Linked DNA regions of Homo sapiens: region 2 is linked to region 1. Evidence: fine-mapped expression QTL. A gene starts in region 1. The other region holds a variant in brackets. All regions are shown on one strand. Distances are between the middles of the regions. Region 1 holds the start of CRHBP (corticotropin releasing hormone binding protein). Region 2 holds the start of S100Z (S100 calcium binding protein Z).

Region 1 (2,907 bases):
GAACGGCTCTGCCGAGCGTGGACCAGCAGGAGCGAGGCGGGCTCAGATGTGAGACGTGTGGGGCGGGCCTTCTAACCAAGACGGCCCGCTTGGTGGACCCCAGCACTCGAGCTTGTTGGGTTTTAATCATTTTTCCTCGGCCCTGGATTGCGTCAGAGTTCCGCGCTGCGAGTTCAAGTCTTTAGAAGTTCCTAGGGCCTCGAAAGCGCCCAGAAGGGAATTTAAACCATGGCAGCGTCCAGAGGCACCGGCCCCAGCCCCACTGGATGTGTGTGGGTCGAGGTCTTCGGGTAAGGGCGAGATTCTCGCCGTGTGGGGGTCCTCGAACGCGCCTCTCCGACTCGGGCACCAGCGAAGTGTCTAAGAAGTGCCACTGGCTACCTACGCTCAGCAGCCCCACGCTGGGTGCAGCGCCCCAGCCCTTTCCAACCCTCCCGTGCCGCCCTCCGGCTAGGTTGGCTGGCCGTGGGCGCCTCACCTTCAGGAAGTCGCCGCCCTGACAGTCGATGGAGACCTGGTCGTAGTGGATGGTAATGAACTCCTCGGGCTCGCTGATGAAGAAGGCTGCGCAGTGCAGCTGCGGCCGGTCGGCGGTGAAGGTGAACTGGCCCTGGAGGCTCAGCATGTCCAGGCACCCTGGGGGAGGAGGGCATGGGGCAATAAGTCCCGGGCTGCAGCCGCCGCAGCGCCGTCCTCGGGCGGCCGCTCTCCGCGCGCCCCATTCCCGGGCTCTGTAGTGCCCAGCGCCCCGACTTCCAGCCTAGGCTGCGCTGGGTTCCTGCGCCCCGGGCGCGCCACCCTCTCCCGCTCCTGGCGCGCCTCCGCGGACCGATCCTTAGCTAAGGGGACCGCGCCCCTGGCGGTTCCGGCCAGCCCCTTCCCCGAGATGTCCGCGAGCCCTCTGCCCCCCGCACAGAGTCCCACCTTCCCCGCGTCCCGGGCGCCCGCGAGCCGGGCAGCCTCGACTCACGCAGAGCGCGGCGGTACGGCTGCTCCCCAGCCAGCTCCCGCTTCAGGTTGGCGCTGAAGAGCAGGAAAGGATCGTAGTCCGCCGCTTCCCTCAGCTGGCAAGAAACATAGGTCAGTCCGGAAAAGTTCAAGGGCTGGGGATAAAAAAGGGGACCAGGAGCGGGGCACCCTCCCTGCCACTCAGCATAGCGAATAAAGAGAGAGGGGTAATGTTTTCCCGTGTCCGGAGAAGACGGGAAGGTCTTAGACCCTCTCCATCAGGCCAGGGTATCCCCAGCGGCCAGAGGAAGGCAGGCAGGCAGTCTGGGATGCTCAGAGGCAAGGAGGGAGAACAGGATAGGGGAAACCAGGGGCAAGACAGCATCCAGCAGAGAGGGAAGAAACAGCGAACCCCAAAAGGCTGCGAGCAGAGGCAGCCTGCCTGCCGCCTAGGGCTAACACGCAAGGAAGGTGAGATGGGTCAGTCCAGGGGTGGCTCACCTCTAGGTACCGGCTTTCCCCTCTTAGAGCCGTCAGGAAGATGAGAATGAAGTGACACTGAAGTTTGAAGTTGGGCGACATGCTGGCCTTGCCTCTGCAGCTGCTGTGCTCTGCTCCGGAGGTCCTGGGCTTTCCTTCCTACACCCTCGCGCAGACTGAGAGCTAGAAGCTGGTAGGGTCCCTTTGCTGGGTCTCTTTTATAGAGCAGTGGGGAGCGGAGGCTCTCTGCCCCTTAACTGATCGGAGCTCAGTAACCATGGGTTACCCTGTCTCATTGACAGAGTACGTGGCGATGACGAGGGTCCAGCTCTCAGCCACAAATTTTCAGCGTGGCCCAGCATTATTCACCAAGAATGATTTCAGTCACTACAACTTAGTGCACTAAAGTGTTGGAGAATGAGGCGGAGACAAAGAATAAGGGAGTGCATTTTGTTGACCTGCTAAATGCTACATTATACTTTTCTGTGGGCATTCAGGGAATTTTCCATTTTGCAAATCAAAGTGACAAAGTTACATACACGCATAAAATACCCAAACATATAGAGCCTATATTATGCAGCCTCATCACATAACCTTGGATGAAACCATGCTAGAAATTGTCAAAGAATTTAGTATTCATGGAATTTCTCATGTCTCTCAGTAAGAAACTTGAGGCATTTTCAGCTTTAAAGAGGTGGAACAGAAGCAGAAGTCTGATTTTGCAGAAGATTGCAGTAATGCAATTATAAGCTTTCTTCCTGCCCCTTACTCTTTGCTTTATCCTGGTCCAGTTTCTTATAGGCATTTCTTTCATGGAAAACTAACTCTGGTGTCAGGGGACTTCTGGATTTTAGCTGAGCTCTGTCACTTGACCTGGATGTTTACATGATGTACACACTCCTAGACCAGGTAGCTGTAGCCATGACCTTCGCATCCATCTGAACCACTGAGAGATGAGATTAAGTCATTCCATTTCGTGCCTTCAAATACCTGGATTACTTTAACACTCTGGTAGAAGGAACTGCCAGGAAGCTTTATTGTAACTGCTCACCAGCAAATTTGCAGGGCTAAAAAGATGACTTAGGGATCCGGAAATAAGTATAAGCTTATCTCTGCTTATCAGGAGAGAAGAGAATTTCTTCTTTGTGTCCAAAACTGTGGGAAACATGAGGATGCTCCACTATTGGCTTTCCTACCCCTTTCCAGTCTCTGCACCAAGCATTGTTATTACAATTATTACAAATAGACCATAATACAGAGTTATAAAGGAAGGAATGGCTATATTTTCAGTTTTAAAATACTCGAAATTAAACAGTAATTATCCTGGCAGTGTCAGAACTTGATTATTTTCATGTCAGGACAATTCTGAGCTCTGGAGAGGCGGCCTCTTTGTTGGTTTAATCAGGAGGCCTTCGTGCCACAGTCCAACTTTGTAAGCAGTCCTCAGACCACAGACAGTGAGAGGGAAAAGAGTACCTA
Region 2 (2,907 bases), 100 kb after region 1:
CAAAATTAGCCTCCCCTGCCTGCTGGGAGGCACACCTGAGCTCCTCACTTAACCTCCTGGACAGGCCCTGCCATCCCCTGGCTAAATCTAAACTCCCCGCAGTGTGCCCACCCATCCCCTCTGCACCATCTGTGCCGCACACGTGGCACTGCCACTGTGCTGCCCATTCCTCTGCTCAGGTGCCAGTCCTCCAGGGAAGCCTCCGATGCCCCTCAGCTCCTGGGAGCACTCCGCCTCTGGGTGCCCCTGTATCACCTCATGCTTTCCTCTAGACCTGCACCGGCACTGGGTTGAAGGAAAATAATAGTAGCCAACGTTAATTAGCACATACTCTGGGCCAAGCACCCTTCTAGGCAGTTTAAATGTATTCCTTTATGTCATCCTCAAAAATCCCATGAGGAGGCTGGGGAGCGGTGGCTCATGCCTGTAATCGCAGCACTTTGGGAAGCCAAGTGGGAGGTGGAGGTTGCAGTGAGCTGAGATCACACCACTGCACTCCAGCCTGGGTGACAGAGTGAAACTCCATCTCAGAAAAAAACAAAAAACAAAAAAAACTTTATTTCTCTGTCTAACCCAAATTTTGTGTCCTCTCACCAACTTCTCCCCAGCCCCTCCATCCCTCTTCCCTCTCTTCTTCTGTAGGCTGAGAGCAGCCATTCCAGGGCTGATTGTCCAGGCATGCCCAGCACTGGCCAGTGTGAAGAGGAGGAGCATAGACCACTGCTGTGACTTCCTGGGAGTGGGCTTACACTGGCATCTGTGCAGGCTTCAGGAAAAAGAAGCGAAATCACGGCGTGGATCTAAGGGGCCAAGCCTCACCTTGAAGGTTCTTCTGGGTCTTTGGCCTGGACAAGAACATGAAACTTGAATTTCTCAAGGTGAGGTGAAGGCCAAGCAGGAAGCCAGGATGGTCACCAGGAAAGGAGCCAGAATGAACTAAGTGTTCTTTAGGGCAAGGAACTTACCAGAACCTCTACGCTCCGAGCTATGATCAGGCTGCTCTCTCCCTCTCTCTCTCTCTCTCTCTCTCCCCCACCCCCCCGACCCCTTTGTGGCCAAGGTAAGGCCACATTTTAGAGTGGAAGCCCCAAGGCAACCCCCCACCTCACAACCTCCACTCTTGTTGCCCTCTCTAATCCAACGCCTGCCAGGCTCACACTTCAACCACTAGACTGAAAAGCAAGAATCTTCCACAAAAATAATCTTTTACCTTAGACCTGCTTCCTGTGCAGATGAGATAAGGAGAATGCTCTTGTCTGAATTTCTGGGCGTGGAGATTAGCAAGCCGTTTTCCTCCCAGCAGCTAGAGCGAGCAAGAGGCCCTGCTGTGAGTAGTGCTGTTCTGAGTCTGCGTGGTCCAGACTCACCACACTGCAGGCACGTTTCTTCATCAGGTGGGAAAGCAGGAAGAGGTTTAATTTAGGACCTAAAGCTGGTATATTGCTGAGTAAAAGAAATGGGAAGGCACCAAGTCTCTAA[C/T]GAAATTGCGCTGGGTGCAGTGGCTCATGCCTCTAATCCCAGCACTTTGAGAGGCTGAGGTGGGTGGATCACTTGCGGTCAGGAGTTTGAGACCAGCCTGGTCAACGTGGCGAAACCCCATCTCTACTAAAAATATAAAAATTAGCCAGGCATGGTGGCGGGCGCCTGTAATTCCAGCTACTCGTGAGGCTGAAGCAGGAGAACGCTTGAACCTGAGAGGCAGAGGTTGTAGTGAGCTGAGCTCGCCGCTGCCCTCCAGACTAGGTGACAGAGCCAGATTCCGTCTCAAAAAAACAAAAAAAAAAGAAAAAGAAACTGCTTGTGATCCAACACTCCCCCACTGGTGCCTCCTCATGGTGAAGAGCAATTACTCTGGCACCAGAGTCTTGGGGTTCAAATCCTTACTTCACCAGTATGTGACTGGAAAAGCTACCTAACCTGCCTGCTGAAGCTTCATGGCTAATAATTCCTCACAGCATTTCTTTTTTTCTTTTTTTTTTTTGAGACAGAGTCTTGCTCTGTCACCCAGGCTGGAGTGCAGTGGCATCATCTCAGCTCACTGCAACCTCCACCTCCCTGGTTCAAGCTTCTGCCTCAGCCTCCCAAGTAGCTGAGATTACAAGCGCCCACCACTAAGCCTGGCTAATTTTTGTATTTTCAGTAGAGATGGGGTTTCACCATGTTGGTGAGGCTGGTCTTGAATTCCTGACCTCAAGTGATCCGCCCACCTTGGCCTCCCAATGTGCTGGGATTATAGGCGTGAGACACTGCGCCTGGCCCAGGAGGAATAAGTTTAAGAGCTCCCATTGTACAGCATGCTATCTATAGTTAATAACAATATATCGTGTATCGAAAATTGCTAAGACAGTAGATGTTAAGTGTCTTTATCACCCCCAAAAAATGACAAGTATATGGGGCAATTAAGTCAAATAGCTTGACTTAATAATTCCACAATGTATACATAAATTAAAACATCAAGCTGTATTTGTATACCATAATATATACAATTTTTACTTGTCAATTAAATAAATAAATACACAGAAAAGGGCAGAGACAGGTCAAGAAGCACAGCACTCAGTACAGAAATACAGATAACAATATATTGAAAGAAAGAATTCAAAGATAAATTTTTTTTTTTTTTTTTTGGAGACAGAGTCTTGCTCCATTGCCTAGGGTAGAGTACAGAGACACAATCACAGCTCTCTGCAACCTCAACCTCCCAGGCTCAAGTGATCCTCCCACTTCAGCCTCCCAAATAGCTAGGACTGCAGGGTATGCCACCACAACCTGGCTAATACTTGTATTTTTTTGTAGAGATGGGGTTTCACCATGTTGCTTGCCCAGTCTAGTCTTGAACTCCTGGGCTCAAGTGATCCTCCCAGCCTGGCTTCCCAGAGTGCTGGGATTACAGGCACCAGCCACCGCACC

Evidence for each region. PIP is the estimated chance that this variant, and not a neighbour inherited with it, causes the effect.
Region 2: its variant is fine-mapped to the expression of CRHBP in whole blood (TOPMed, PIP 0.97).

The regions. Positions count from the first base shown.
Region 1 is chr5:76,951,758-76,954,664 of GRCh38, reverse strand. It overlaps CRHBP (corticotropin releasing hormone binding protein), which reads right to left and starts at 1,620. Exons shown (of 7, transcript NM_001882.4): 1 at 1,450-1,620; 2 at 971-1,064; 3 at 479-636. The coding sequence starts at 1,530. It also overlaps a transcript of S100Z not described here. RefSeq lists an enhancer at 208-894.
Region 2 is chr5:76,848,459-76,851,365 of GRCh38, reverse strand. S100Z (S100 calcium binding protein Z) reads right to left here and starts at 1,352. Exons shown (of 5, transcript NM_130772.4): 1 at 1,211-1,352. The variant C/T (reference allele first, on the strand shown) is at 1,480.